4 linked regions of the Homo sapiens genome follow. The protein of the gene in region 3 purifies or fractionates together with the protein of the main gene of each other region. This does not show direct contact. Each region holds a gene or a part of one and is shown on either strand. Other genes may lie near its edges.

What was found. Proteins that work in one complex are often made in the same cells at the same time.
Region 1: the proteins of CMTR1 (region 3) and ABCF1 purify together in Homo sapiens (affinity purification with mass spectrometry, with the first as the bait; one large-scale study listed by BioGRID). This does not show direct contact.
Region 2: the proteins of CMTR1 (region 3) and RPL21 purify together in Homo sapiens (affinity purification with mass spectrometry, with the first as the bait; one large-scale study listed by BioGRID). This does not show direct contact.
Region 4: the proteins of CMTR1 (region 3) and CPSF6 purify together in Homo sapiens (affinity purification with mass spectrometry, with the first as the bait; one large-scale study listed by BioGRID). This does not show direct contact.

What each region holds. Positions count from the first base shown.
Region 1 is NC_000006.12:30,577,931-30,581,778, reverse strand, and holds part of ABCF1 (ATP-binding cassette sub-family F member 1), read right to left. Parts: intron 3,704-3,848; coding exon 3,577-3,703; intron 3,432-3,576; coding exon 3,394-3,431; intron 3,310-3,393; coding exon 3,202-3,309; intron 1,849-3,201; coding exon 1,774-1,848; intron 1,374-1,773; coding exon 1,260-1,373; intron 1-1,259. UniProt on the Homo sapiens protein: Isoform 2 is required for efficient Cap- and IRES-mediated mRNA translation initiation. Isoform 2 is not involved in the ribosome biogenesis.
Region 2 is NC_000013.11:27,254,547-27,257,405, reverse strand, and holds the end of RPL21 (large ribosomal subunit protein eL21), read right to left. Parts: intron 2,343-2,859; exon of another isoform or gene 2,271-2,342; intron 2,165-2,270; coding exon 2,052-2,164; intron 2,006-2,051; exon of another isoform or gene 1,880-2,005; intron 1,223-1,879; coding exon 1,072-1,222; intron 971-1,071; coding exon 881-970; 3' UTR 838-880; downstream 1-837.
Region 3 is NC_000006.12:37,460,667-37,464,514, reverse strand, and holds part of CMTR1 (cap-specific mRNA (nucleoside-2'-O-)-methyltransferase 1), read right to left. Parts: intron 2,967-3,848; coding exon 2,870-2,966; intron 2,546-2,869; coding exon 2,413-2,545; intron 1,687-2,412; coding exon 1,507-1,686; intron 1-1,506. UniProt on the Homo sapiens protein: S-adenosyl-L-methionine-dependent methyltransferase that mediates mRNA cap1 2'-O-ribose methylation to the 5'-cap structure of mRNAs.
Region 4 is NC_000012.12:69,246,058-69,249,905, reverse strand, and holds part of CPSF6 (cleavage and polyadenylation specificity factor subunit 6), read right to left. Parts: intron 1-3,848. UniProt on the Homo sapiens protein: Component of the cleavage factor Im (CFIm) complex that functions as an activator of the pre-mRNA 3'-end cleavage and polyadenylation processing required for the maturation of pre-mRNA into functional mRNAs.

The DNA.
Region 1 (3,848 bases), 6.9 Mb from region 3:
ATTTCAAGAGTTTCATTTGTATAAAATGAGTTTCTGTGGTTTCCTTGTTAACATGCAAAGAAAAGATCAGGTAGCCGTCCGGGCACGGTGGCTCATGTCTGTAATCCCAGCACTTTGGGAGGCCAAGATGGACAGATCACAAGGTCAGGAGATCAAGACCATCCTGGCTAACATGGTGAAATCCTGTCTCTACTAAAAACACAAAAAATCAGCCGGTCATGGTGGCACGTGCCTGTAGTCCCAGCTACTCGGGAGACTGAGGCAGAAGAATTGCTTGAACCCGGGAGGCAGAGGTTGCAGTGAGCTGAGATTGCGCCACCGCACTCCAGCCTGGGCAACGGAGTGAGACTCCATCTCAAAAAAAAAAAAAAAAAAAAAAAGATCAGGAAGCTCTAGTGCACAGTCAGAGGAATCCAGCAGAATCACAGAATTAGGAAGTGCCAGACGCATAGGGACCCTAGAGATCTCCGGACTCCTCCTTCTATCACACAAAGGAGACAAGTGAGACCCAAGGGGATGGGAAGATGTATTCAAGGTCACACAGCCAGTGAAGGCAGAGCCAGGACCCAGATCATCTGAGATAAATTCCAGGCCCTTTCTTCACTGGATTAGGTGTTGCAAACTACAGCCCATGGGCCAAGGCTGACCTGACATTTATTTTTATATAGCTCCTGAACTTTATAAAAATAATTTTTGTATTTTCAAAGAGTTGTTAAAAAAAAAAAAGAATATGTGATAGAGATTGTATGTGGCCTGCAAAGCCAAAAACATTTACTATATGGCCCTTTATAGAAAAAGTTTGCTGGCTGGCATGCTGGCTCACACCTGTAAACCCAGCATTTTGGGAGGCTGAGGCAGGAGGACTGCTTGAGCCCAGAAATTCAAGACCAGCCTGAGCAACATAGTGAGACCTCATCTCTATACTAAAAATAAAAAAATTAGCCAGGGGTAGTGGTGCACACTTGTAGTCCCAGCTACTCAGTAGGCTGAGGCAGGAGAATCTGTTGAGCCCAGGAGGTTGAGGCTTCAGTGAGCCGTGTTCACACCACTGCACTCCAGCCTGAGTGACAGAGTAAGATCCTGTGTAAACAAAAACAAAAACAAAAACAAACGAACCACCACCCCAACTACTCCCCCAAAAAAAGAAAAGAATAAAGGTTTGCTGGGATAATAACTATATCCCCAGATTCTAACTCTCCCATAAGGACCCTGGAAGCCCTAGTCCCTCATTCCACCTTGCCCCAACACCAAATACACACCTGCTCTGCCTTCTTGGCCTTCTCCTTCCCTTGTTTGGGAGGCTCCTTTTCCTTTATAATTTCTTCTTCTTTATCCTCCTCTTCATTGTCCAGAGCAGCGAATTTATTTTGAGGCTAATAGGGAAAAGACAGGTCTGATGAAATGTTTTTTTTTTTTTTCTTTTTTTTTTTTTGAGACGGAGTCTCGCTCTGTCACCCAGGCTGGAGTGCAGTGGCGCAATCTCGGCTCACTGCAAGCTCCACCTCCCGGGTTCACGCCATTCTCCTGCCTCAGCCTCCCGAGTAGCTGGGACTACAGGCGCCCGCCACCACGCCCGGCTAATTTTTTTTGTATTTTTAGTAGAGACGGGGTTTTACCGTGTTACCAGGATGGTCTCGATCTCCTGACCTCGTGATCCGCCCACCTCGGCCTCCCAAAGTGCTGGGATTACAGGCGTGAGCCACCGCGCCCAGCCCTGATGAAATGTTTTAATTCCTGGGCCCCAATACCTCCTCCTGCTAGTTACTCTCTCACCTTAGCCTTCCCTTTTGACTTCTCTTCCTTTCCCTTTTTGCCCTTGAGTGCAGGCTGCTGTTCCTCAGATACGGCCTGGAGGAGACACACATACACATTACACACATACATACAAATTATTGTGCTACTTTGCTGTGTAATAAGCATTTCTAGAGAGTCTACTGTGTTAACCATACACATGCTCCTCCATTTACGACAGGTTGCATCCCGATAAACCCACCAGAAACTTAAATAAAAAATGATAGTTCTTGGCCGGGCGTGGTGGCTCACACCTGTAATCCCAGCACTTTGGGAGGCCAAGGCAGGTGGATCACAAGGTCAAGAGATCGAGACCATCCTGGTCAACATGGTGAAACCCTGTCTCTACTAAAAACACAAAAATTAGCTGGGCGTGGTGGCACGTGCCTGTAATCTCAGCTACTCAGGAAGCTGAGGCAGGAGAATCACTTGAACCCGGGAGGCGGAGGTTGCAGTGAGCCAGGATTACGCCACTGCACTCCAGCCTGGCAACAGAGTGAGACTCCGTCTCAAAAAAAAAAAAAAAAAAAAATAGTTCCAACTTATGATGGGTTTATCTGGATATAATCCCATCATGAGTTGAGGAGTACCCTAAATGAGTATGACTTTCACACCATCATAAAGTAGAAAAATCGTACACCGAAGCAGAAGTTGGAGACCATCTGTATTGAGTGCTGCTGACGAAAAATGAGACCCAGAAAAACCCTACCCTCCAGCTTCAGACTAGATAGCGAAGAGATAACTAGGGAACGTCAGCAAGGCTAAGGATTATAAGTCAGGCAAGTGCGCCACCAGAGTGAGTGGCACTAGCACTGGAGGCTTTCTCAAGAGCTCAAATGGACATGGACTAAGATGCACACGCAGAAGAGTCACAAGTAGAAGAGCAAGGACCTGGGGCTTTGTTTCAGGTTCTGTGCTTAAAGCAACAGAATCACTGTAGATTTCTGAGTGATAAAAATGGCATGGTTTTTTTTGTTGTTTTTTTTTTGAGACTGAGTCTTGCTCTGTTGCCCAGGCTGGAGTGCAGTGCCTCAATCTCAGCTCACTGCAAATTCCACCTCCCAAGTTCAAGTGATTCTCCTGCCTCAGCCTTCCAAGTAGCTGGGATTACAGGCGCACGCCACCACGCCTGGCTAATTTTTGTATTTTTAGTAGAGATGAGGTTTCGCCATGTTGGTCAGGCTGGTCTCGATCTCTTGACCTCGTGATTCGCCCACCTCGGCCTCCCAAAGTGCTGGGATTACAGGCGTGACCCACTGTGCCCAGCCTGGGCATGTATTCTAAAAAGATGATTTTAACAGTATAAGTAAGACAGACCGAGAAGAGCTAGTTTAAAAGCGGGAAATTACTCCACCATGGCCAGAAGGTGCTAAATGGAGTGAGAGTGACTGATCGAGCCACCACTGTCACCTTATTGATCCGATTCTTCTCCGGCTTGGCAGGCTTAGGAGGATGTTTTTCTTCCTCCTCCTCTTCCTCACTCTGATCCTGAATCAGGGCTGCAAAAACATTACCACCCTAGAGAATGAAAGGGCCACAGAAGTCAGTAGGATGGTCAAGGTTGCATCCTTGGAGTCTCCGTTTACCACACAGATGGCTTACCTTGGTTTTCTTCCCTCCGCGGGGTTTTGGGGCGGGTACTGAAATGACAGGGGGAGAACATGAGATAGGAAAGAATTACAATGTCTGGCCCCCCAATTGAATCCAACTTGAAGATCAGGGTATGAGGTATCACTCTCCATGACTCATGGATTCCAGGTACCCATTCCCCCTCAGGTCATTTACCTTCATCCTCCTCATCACTGGTTGGCACTGAGAGCTTCTTAAGACGCTCCATGAGCTCTTTCTCTTCTCCATCATCATCCACATCCTTCTTCCGCCTGCCTTTTCGGGTATCTCGCTTTTTTTTTTGCTGCTGAGAGCAAAAGAACAGTGAGAAAATGAAGCCCAGGCCCCTGCTGTATTTCTGCCTCACAGAGGGTTCCCCATCAGCTGAATGGAGCAACATGGGCTGGAAAGGGGTTGGTGGAACCCAGATGCCTCCCAGGATTGGTGGG
Region 2 (2,859 bases), on a different chromosome or scaffold from region 3:
TGCCAGCACCTTTACCTTGGGACATCAGAGCCTCCAGAACCACCACATAAGCTTCTACTGCTTACCCAGGTCTGTGGTATATTGTTACAGCAAGACAACGGCCTAAGACAAATGCTATTACCACTATTATTTTGAGTCCTGTTCCATGCATGGTCAAAGCAATTCCAAGCTAGTATATAACACACAAAGAATGGATGCTTTAAACAATCTTTTTTTTTTTTTTAAGGATTCAAAAGCAAACTCTGGATCCTGAGCTTAACTGTTACGCAATAGATGACATCCCACTTATTTTTGTATGTTTTATTTGTCCTGGCACAGTAGCTCACACCTGTAATCCCAGCACTTTGGGAGGCCAAGGCAGGTGGATCACGAGGTCAGGAGTTTGAGACCAGACTTATAAACATGGTGAAACCCTGTCTCTACTAAAGATACAAAAATTAGCCAGGCGTGGTGGCACGCGCCTATAATCCCAGCTACTCAGCAGGCTGAGGCAGAATTGCTTGAACCCAGGAGGCAGATGTTGCAGTGAGCCGAGATCACACCATTGCACTCCAGCCAGGTTGACAGAGCAAGACTGTCTCAAAAAAAAAATATTTTATTTCTTCCTTGATGATTTAGAAGGACTATCTTCAAACCAGTACAAGTATTTCATATATAATACCTCGCCATTTTCTGAGTAATTTGTTGCACAATAAGCTACCTCATGTCCTTCAGCAAGAAATACATTAAATTTGAATAGCAAGGACATTACATAATGAATTAGGACACAACCAAAATTTGCTTTAAATATTTCTTTGGGGGAGAGGACACCACACTTCTACTCAATGAAGAGAAACATTTTTGTAGCCCAGAGGTCCTTTATTTTTTTTTTTAACACCTATTATGCCATGAATTCATAGGGAATAGGTTCCAGCAGCTCAGGCTCCTTCCCATTGGTTCTCACAAAGTGTGCTTCTCTGGGTGGAGCAGGCTATTAAAGGAAAAAAAAAGGGAATAAAATAATTATGTGATGTGTTAAATCTCAACCTTAAAGTGCTCTCAGAACCAATGAAATATACACCAAATTCTTACCTGGCGCTTTAGTTGAACCCAGGTACCTTTCTCTTTGGCTTCTTTCTTTTTCTGATCATTTTCCTTCACACGTTTCAGGAAGCTATCTCGGCTCTTAGAGTGCTTAATGTGCTCAATACGCACATTAATTCTCTTGGCAAGAATCTTGCCCCTGGACAGAGCAGAAATTCTTTTAAGTGCTTTAACAAAAATATAACAGAAATGTAGAAAACTGATTTTGCAGTTTCATTTATTAAATAAACCATAAACCTTTTACCCAGATATGACAAATCAACAAAGTATGCCTTGATTACTTAATTTACAATCAATTAATCATATCAGAAGAGGCCTTGCAGAGAACATCCCTACTTTTAACTCTCTTTGATGAGATGATGGTCTCTTAAACTCTAGTAATCTAAAACCAGACTGCTAATAAAATTTAAAAGTTTACTAAACTTCTCTTTTTATTCTATAAAAACTGCTGGGCCAGGCGCGGTGGCTCATGCCTGTAATCCCAGCACTTTGGGAGGCCGAGGCAGGCAGATCACGAGGTCAGGAGATTGAGACCATCCTGGCTGACACAGTGAAACCCTGTCTCTACTAAGAATACAAAAAATTTAGCTGGGCATGGTGGTGGGCGCCTGTAGTCCTAGCTACCCCAGAGGCTGAGGCAGGAGAATGGCGTGAACCCAGGAGGTGGAGCTTGCAGAGAGCAGAGATCCCACCACTGCACTCCAGCCAGGGCGACAGAGCAAGACTCCGTCTCGAAACAAAACAAACAAACCGCTTAGTAACTAACTGTGTAAGACTTTCCAGTAAATCTATTTCAATTTGTTTCCTCTGACAGGATACAGACAAACACCCAGTTTGCCTGAGTTTTAAAAGGATATTTCCTTTGCCCCACTTGAATGACCAATAAAGACATAAGTCCAACTGGCAAAGTGAAAAGGGGGTATATGAGGGAATACTGGTTAGCCACAAAGAACTACAACACTACTTACTTAACTTGTTTGTTTACAACAATGCCAACAGCATGCTGGGTAACATTGTAGACTCTTCCAGTTTTGCCATGGTAACACTTGTGGGGCATTCCTTTTTGAACAGTACCCATTCCCTATTAAAGAAACCAATGTTATATACCAGCATTTCCCCTTCCTTTAAAATTCTGACTTTAAGTAACTGCAAAGTATTCTAAGATTTCTTTCAAATGGCAACTCAAGAGCTTTCAGAGCCGGTGAAATGTGTTTTTCACATTGCTTCAAGCAATCAAAAAAAACAGTCATCATTAAGCTCGAGTGCCAAGATACATTTAAATCCAGGTCACAGAAGAACACAGCTTTCACTAGGAGGGTTTTTAATCATAGTAATAGTAATCTTCATCAATAATTAAACTTTGCACTAAGGCGTTCCTTTCCAACTTGATAAACTCATAATTTCCCACCCTACCACCCAATTTCCACTAGCTGTTAACTCCAAGCGGGTAATGAGGAAAATTTAAATTCTGCTAAGAATAGCACTTTAAAAAATCCATTCTAGGCCGGGCACGGTGGTTCACACCTGTAATAATCCCAGCACATTGGGAGGCTGAGTCCGGCGGATCACCCGAGGTGTTCAAGACCAGCCTGACCAACATGGAGAAACCCCTTCTCTACTAAAAATACAAAATTAGCCAGGAATCATGGTGCATGCCTGTAATCCCAGCACATTGGGAGGCTGAGTCCAGCAGATCACCCGAGGTGTTCAAGACCAGCCTGACCAACATGGAGAAACCACTTCTCTACTAAAAATACAAAATTAGCCAGGTATCAT
Region 3 (3,848 bases):
AAATTTCCTTAGGTGATGGAAACGTTTTTTATCTTTTTTTTTTTTTTTGAGATGGAGTCTTCCTCTGTCGCCCAGGATGGAGTGCAGTGGCGCGATCTCGGCTCACTGCAAGCTCTGCCTCCTGGGTTCACGCCATTCTCCTGCCTCAGCCTCCCAAGTGGCTGGGACTACAGGCGCCCGCCACCACGCCTGGCTAATTTTTTTTGAATTTTTAGTAGAGATGGGGTTTCACCGTGTTAGCCAGGATGGTCTCGATCTCCGGATCTCGTGATCCATCTGCCTCAGCCTCCCAAAGTGCTGGGATTACAGGTGTGAGCCACTACGCCCGGCCACATTTTTTATCTTAATAGGGATGTAGGCTACAAGGATATATGCATTTGTAAACTGATTATACACTTAAGATTTGCATTTCACTTACAGAATTATACCTCAACTTTTTTAGAAAAAGAAAAGTGGCTGGTTATAGAGTTGCTTAAACACTCTGTGTTATTGGAACCCCTGAAAAGAATTCCAGTTCTGCCATGCATCTATGCACACTTGTTCAGCCAAAAGACATGTTCCATAACCCAGAAGTGTTACAAAGCCCTAGCCAGGCGGGTCGCTGGGCCTGTTTGCTTCCTCATCTATAACATGCTGAAGTTTACTGTCTGCTCCACCTTGGTGCCTACCATTGCTATCAAAATGAGGGCGCTTATATGGCAGTACTGTGGAAAGTTAAAACACCAGGCAATACTGGAAAAATAGGAGAGAATAGGATAAAGACTTCCTCCCCTTCTATGATTCTCCAGGGCCACCTCTATCTTCAAACTTCTCTGGGGGACTTAAGGTTGGACCCTTAACTAAGGCCTTTCCAACACCTGTTTAGCCCCCTAAGAGAGCATTTTCTATTGAATCACTACTACTATACAACCCTCCAGCCTATCTCCAAACACTTTTTTCAAAGGCCTGCCCACTGAGAAAACTAAGCCAAATGTCACAACTTTAAATTATTACCACTAACAGGGAGTGGGGAAAACAAAGAAGATACAGAAAACAGCATTTGGATCACCAGCTGGGGAACTCATGAAGAAATGGCAAAAGTTTGGGCACTTCCAAAGCATGTTGTACACATGCTTTCCATCCATCTCCTGCCTCCAAACAGGGACTTCACCAGGCAACAAGCATGATGGCCTTTTACAAACAGCAGCAATTAAAGGGAAATTACTCCTGCCTCCAGGGACACAGGCTGCTCTGTCAGCTTTCACTGTTATACACAGGCTCCTGCAGGCAGGCCTATACTAGCCAGGCACCTACCTGCCACCCTTGGGATAGGGCATGGCAGCAGGATGGGGGTCCCTGAGGGTAACTAACCAAAGTCCCAGGGAGCCCTGAAACCAGCAGACCAAACCCAGTTGCCAATTTGTCAGGGTTGACAAAGTGATACCAAGAGCCAACCATTCAGTCTTTCACTCTCTGGTCTTCCTTAGGACCTCAGTGTTACCAGCAAAAACCAGCCCGTTGGCTTACCTCTCATTGGACCGTATCATGTAGTCAGTAAATTCATGGTCTCCCTTGATCACCTCCAGGGGGACCACCAAGTTGACGTCGGAATCCGTGTTCCGCAGCTGATTGAGTTTAATATTCACTGCGAAGAGGTAATCCCGAACATCATCTATGCCCACCTTCAGGCCCTTGCACACCACATACCTGGCAGAAGATACTCTGTCACTCCACCGAGCAAGGGCTTCCTCCCCATACATTCCTTTTCCCCCAACCCCTTGTGGAATCACAAAGCTTAATGGCTTCCCTGTTCAACCTTAGGCCTACGCACAAAGAACAACACAGACCCTTTGTGGTGCTAAAGTTCCCCTCAAATCCTTCTCTGTTGAGCTCTATTTCTACTCTCTATCGCAGTAGTTCCTAACTTCCCTGTGACAGACGGGCTGTGTCACAATCACCTGGGGAGTCTGTTAAATTATAGACCTAATGAATCAAACTCTCCCAGGAGAAGGCCCAGAAATATGTGTTTGTAACAAAGCCACCGGGCAATTCTGATTGGTTGCATTTTCTCTCACCTTGTGTGTGGGCAGTGTCACACTGGGACCCCAGTAGTGCCTCTGGATAGCGGCTCCTTGCCCCTTCCCAGCCCAAGACCCCTGAAGTGTCCCTACTATTGGTCACTTTCTCCTTGGCCAAGCTGAGAATCCCTCACATAAGCATGGAGCATAAGGCTTGGAAGAAGGAGGCAGAGGCTGAACTGGCATATCACAAGACCAAAAGATCCAGGAATCCTGAATCCTGTTGGCTCTCATCACTTCTTTAAAGTCAAGGTTTTAAACGTAGCTTAAGAGGTCATGCCAGAGAGATGCACCATGATTTGCTGTTCTGACATTTAGCCAATTAATCTGGCTAATATAGAGAGAAAGGCTTCACCTCTCTGAGTTGGCAGGACGGCTGGTAATAGGCTTGAAGAGACAAACTCGTTCAAAGCAGCAGTACAGCAGGTAGACAAGCCCCACACTAAACGGTGTGAACAGGTCAAAGGTTTTACAGATGAAGTGGCCTCCTAGATTAGAGAGAAAACACCAAAAGCAGCCAATGGGTCTATTCCAAGAGATGGGTGAAGTAGTCTTGGGAGTAAATATGACAAAGTCAAGGAAACCAGCACCTGGGTCTGTTAAAACTCAGAGACAATTTAAGGGGGAGAACCATCTTTGGAGGGGACTTTGAGGATTCCACAGCCCTTTCTTCCCTAAATTACTCATTTAGCTACCTGTCCTCTAATATAAGCAGATTTTTTTAACTTCCCCACCAACCCCTTGTACATGTTCTTGTCCAATAGGGCCTCTAAGTGGGTCCTGGGGTGAGGAGACAGCTGAGGAAGTGTCACCTGTCCGGACAATGGACAGCGCCATGAGGAACTGACACAGAAGCAGCTGCTTGCTGAGGATCTCCTGCAGGTTCTCCTGCCCCTCCACCGAGAAACCCTGAAATGAGAGCACAAGGAATGGGGTGGGAAAGAGAAAAGAGAAGGACTAAGAATAACATCACTACCTCATCTTCATCGAGAGTTCTTGAAGTGTTTTCACTGATCACCATCTGATTGATGAAGAAGCAGCTCAGTGTTGAGTTATTTTAGAAGGTCACTGGGCTTGTTAGATGGAGTAAGCACAGGACCCAGGCCTACTACTGGACCAGCTCCACTTTCCTGCTCTGTCATTCTCAGGGGATGGAACCAAGCCTGCTTTTCCAAGGAGATGGTTTAGAATGTGTTTTAACTCATGGGAATCCAGAGAAGAGTAAGGCAGAACAGAGGCAAAATATTGGCTAGTCAGAGGTCAACCACAACATAGGAAACAGAATGCTCTGGTGAGTCCTAACAAGACCAGGGAGTGAGTACAGTGAGAACACTCTGCTTCGGCTTCCCACTCTGGTGAAGGAGAAAAGTTAACTTTCCTAGTCACAGTAATCTCTCTCTGTTGACTCAGGTTTTACTTACAATACCCCCTTTCCTGTCCTAAGACCACGGTGCCTCTTGTATCCAGCTGGCAGACTCTCTGGCCAGGGTATTTACTGAAAGAATGTGTGATGCTATTTCTAGAGTGGTCTCCCTCCTTGTGAGATCCCAGCAGGAGACAGAGTCAGGCTTACATAAAAGTAAAGGAGGCCAGGGGACATCAGGTGGCACAGTGTTGTTAAATGGGTACAGTTTCTGTTTTGCAAAATGAAAACTTCTGAAAATCTGTTGCACAACAGTGTGAATAGACTTAACACTACTGTTAACACTTAAAAATGATTAAGATGATCAAATTTGTGTTTTTTACAATAAAATAAAGAAAAAAGGACGCTGCCCTCTATTAAACACGCCC
Region 4 (3,848 bases), on a different chromosome or scaffold from region 3:
AATTAAAGCAATGCTACTGGGTGTCACTTACATGCCTAAATGATAATCAGGGAAAAGGAAAACTAAAATGAAACAGAAACAGGAGCAGGAAAAAAATAGAAGAGGGTTCAATTTGTAACTAAGTACATGAAAAATGAAATGTAGGTAAAAGCAGAACACTCAACACTATTTAATTGCCTTTGATAACCATTAAATAGACCATAAGCTTGACTAAGCCTGTAGCACAGGAAAATCTCCATTTTTATCTTCTACTCTCCCTTTCCACAACTAAGTACTTGTATTGGTGTGAACCATTTTATTCTTATGACATAGAACATCTGACATAAGGAAAAAGACAATTATAAGACAACCTGAAAGTTCAGACGTAACTTACAGATTCTCCCATTAATACAATTTACTAAAGAATTATACAAATGGCACATATGGAGGAGCTAATGGTTTTAGGGACTATTAGCCAAAATAGTCCCTAAATGGATAGAATGACCCAGAGAAAAGCATTTGTTATATGATGGTAAACAGAGCAACAAGATATTATGGGCCCAGGCTACTGTTTTGCTATTTAAAGGAGAGCCAGAATAAGATCTTTTATTTATTTTGTATTTTTTTAATTTTAATTTTTATTTATTTATTTTTTTGAGACGGAGTCTTGCTCTGTCGCCCAGGCTGGAGTGCAGTGGCGCAATCTCGGCTCACTGCAAGCTCCGCCTCCTGGGTTCACGCCATTCTCCTGCCTCAGCCCCCCCCCCCCCCCCCGAGTAGCTGGGACTACAGGCGCCCGCTACCTTGCCCAGCTAATTTCTTGTATTTTTTGTAGAGATGGGGTTTCACCGTGTTAGGCAGGATGGGTTAGCCAGGATGGTCTTGATCTCCTGACCTCGTGATCCGCCCGCCTCGGCCTCCCAAAGTGCTGGGATTACAGGTGTGAGCCACCACACCCGGCCGAGAATAAGATCTTTTTAAAAGAAAAAGAAAAAAGCCTAGTAGGGGAAATATCATTTATATTCCTAAATAAAGGGACCTCAAGTAATCATCAGGTAATCGTTTATGTAATTAATGACTTATCCAATTTACTAGTTACAGAATCTTTACATACCAATTTTACTTGTTACGAGGTAGAATGTCTATAAGACTTATTTAATAAGGGGTCTGGGATCTCAAGGTTAAATCAGAGAACAAAGCTAAATTTAACAAAGGGCAGAAACTAAGACCACAAGTCACTGAATAATGCCATAATTTTATTCTGTTTGTACAGCAATACTAAAATAATCTTTAAGAAATGAGTTTTTGTTAAACAAAGTAACATGCTCAAATTGCAATGACCACAGAAATTAGGAAAAAAGAGGGTAAGTTTTGTTATGAAGTTTCAGTGTGGCTGAAGCTTCAGGCGGTGTGGCTGCAGCAGTAGTTCCATGCACTTAAGATACTAAAAAGTTTCCCACAAGGGGTGTTGGGCACTTTAAACTCTCTTGCAATCCGGTTCTGAACATCAAGTAGAATTACTAATATTATTCAAAGGGAGTTGAGTTTCCATCCTCCTCAGCAGAAACTATAATCACAATATATGGTCTGAGGGAAAGTAAAAAAGAATGGAAGGGTTATTAACAGCAGGACTAAATGTATTTTTAAATTTACACTTTCACTTACATAAATAGGTGAACAGATTCTTTGTTTTCTTCTATTAGCTACAAACCTGTGAAAATGTTTACATAAGTAGACAAAAAATTTACAAGCATAATTGCAGCTACACTAACCTGGTATATCACAATCACTTACTATTTTTGTCCATCCATGAATTCCTATGTTGACACAAACCAATTTTCCACATTGATATGATTCTACCAATATTTAGGATCAGCCATTTTGTCTGGTAGTTGTACTGCTTCCAAGTGGTTGTAGTACGATCCTAATTAAGACCATGGTCCTGGGGTTTGATCTCCATGTGGACTAGTTAGCTTCTCTCTGTTCCAAGGCCACAGCCTGTACACTTAGCCCCAATGGTATACATTTAAACTTTGTGAAAAAACATAATGAATCTGAATACATTTGCTGCCATTACTAAAAATGAAACTCAAAGCACACTCTTTTGTAGTTATCAGTAACCTTCCTTTTAATCAGCTTCATATCACATCAATCCTCCAGCGTAAAAAAAAATACAGAACATACTGAACTTTGTTCTTACTTCATAAAGTGAGAAAATATGCATGATGTTTGCATGAGAAATTATGCAAAATGTATATCACAGGTCATATATAAATAAAGCTCTGTGAGCCTACTGAACAGACTAAAAAAAAGGTTTCCAGTTTGTCAAAGAAATATTTCACGGTATCATTTTTTATTACATGAAGGGTCTTTTCAATTATTACTTTTAATTTTAATGGCATTCAAAAAACAAGAAAATATCAACATCATTCCTCTAATTATCTTTGATACCAAATGTTGCCCAATCTTATCTGCTGTTCATAGTAGCTAGCCAGCTATGTTACATAAAGCTTGGAATAAACAACAGCTCTTAGGGTTTGTTTAAAAAAAAAAAAAACTCACTAATTTTTTTCATTCCCTACCATTCTAAATCACTACAATCATTCTTTAGACAAGGTATTCTCTCAACATTTTACACAACAAGATTATGCTCCACATGATATACAAATATCTGTTGCCAAGCCAGAGAAAATGGATGGCAAAATGACCAAAATCCTATTAGTTCCCTTAAAGTATGGCTTCTCAACCTTTTCATTATCCCTGTCTCCTCCCTCCCTTCAAGAAGTTACTTTTAGACATTTTTTCCCTAATTACCCCTCTTACAATTTTAATATCACAGATATACGATACATACTGTATACCACTATTGGGATGAACTTGTTGGCTGTCAAAATATTCATCATTCTCCCTGACAGGCCTGATATTTTTTTGATGGTTCTAAAATTACAGTAATATCATTCGAGGCTAGGCATGGTGGTTCATGCCTGTTAATCCCACCACTTTGGGAGGCCAAGGCAAGAGGATCCCTTGAGCCCAGGAGTCTAAGACCAGCCTGGGCAACTTAGGAAGATCCCATCTCTACCATAAAAATACATAAATACATACAAAATTCGTGCATTATATGATACTATCAGTAAATGCACAGCAAAGGCCACTTGTTTCAAAGCCTATTTTAAATTATTTCCATTTAGAGAAATATATGAAGGGGGGAAGTTACATTTTGCATTTACAAAATATATCCTATACCTCGGAAAAGAAATACTAGTATGCAAAATCCAATAGCAGATAACCTAATGCATACATTTTTAAAGAAAATATATCATTTTCTGGTTTTATCTAATTATGTTCTCAGTAGTTATTAAAACTGGCTAGTAATCCCTGTAAAAATCCCTTCCTTATATAATGGTAAGGAATTTGGTACTAAAAATATGCCACATAAACCATAGTGGACAATTCACAGGCAACTAAATTAACTGCACCCATAAATAACAAAATAGAGAAGAGTTCTAGCTTCCCTGAACATTTCTATCCATTTTTCTGAATCAATTCTACCTAGCTCATTCTCAACCTGACAGCTTTATTTCAGATGGTTTTCTAGTAAACATAAATAAATCATAAACAATGTTTCTCTGATATTTGTCCAAGAAATTTATTTTCATTAATTGGCTCAACAATTGGCTAGAATACATACATAATGACTGAACGTAAAGCAAAATGATTCATGACATAAAAACTGACTTATCGGATGTCCAGGTCCGTAACTCCTAAGTGAATTCTTTGTTCCAACTACTGCCTCTATACACCTCCATTCTTTTAAAAGTAATTAATCTATTTTTGTGTGTGACAAAGTCTCGTTCTGTCACTCAGGC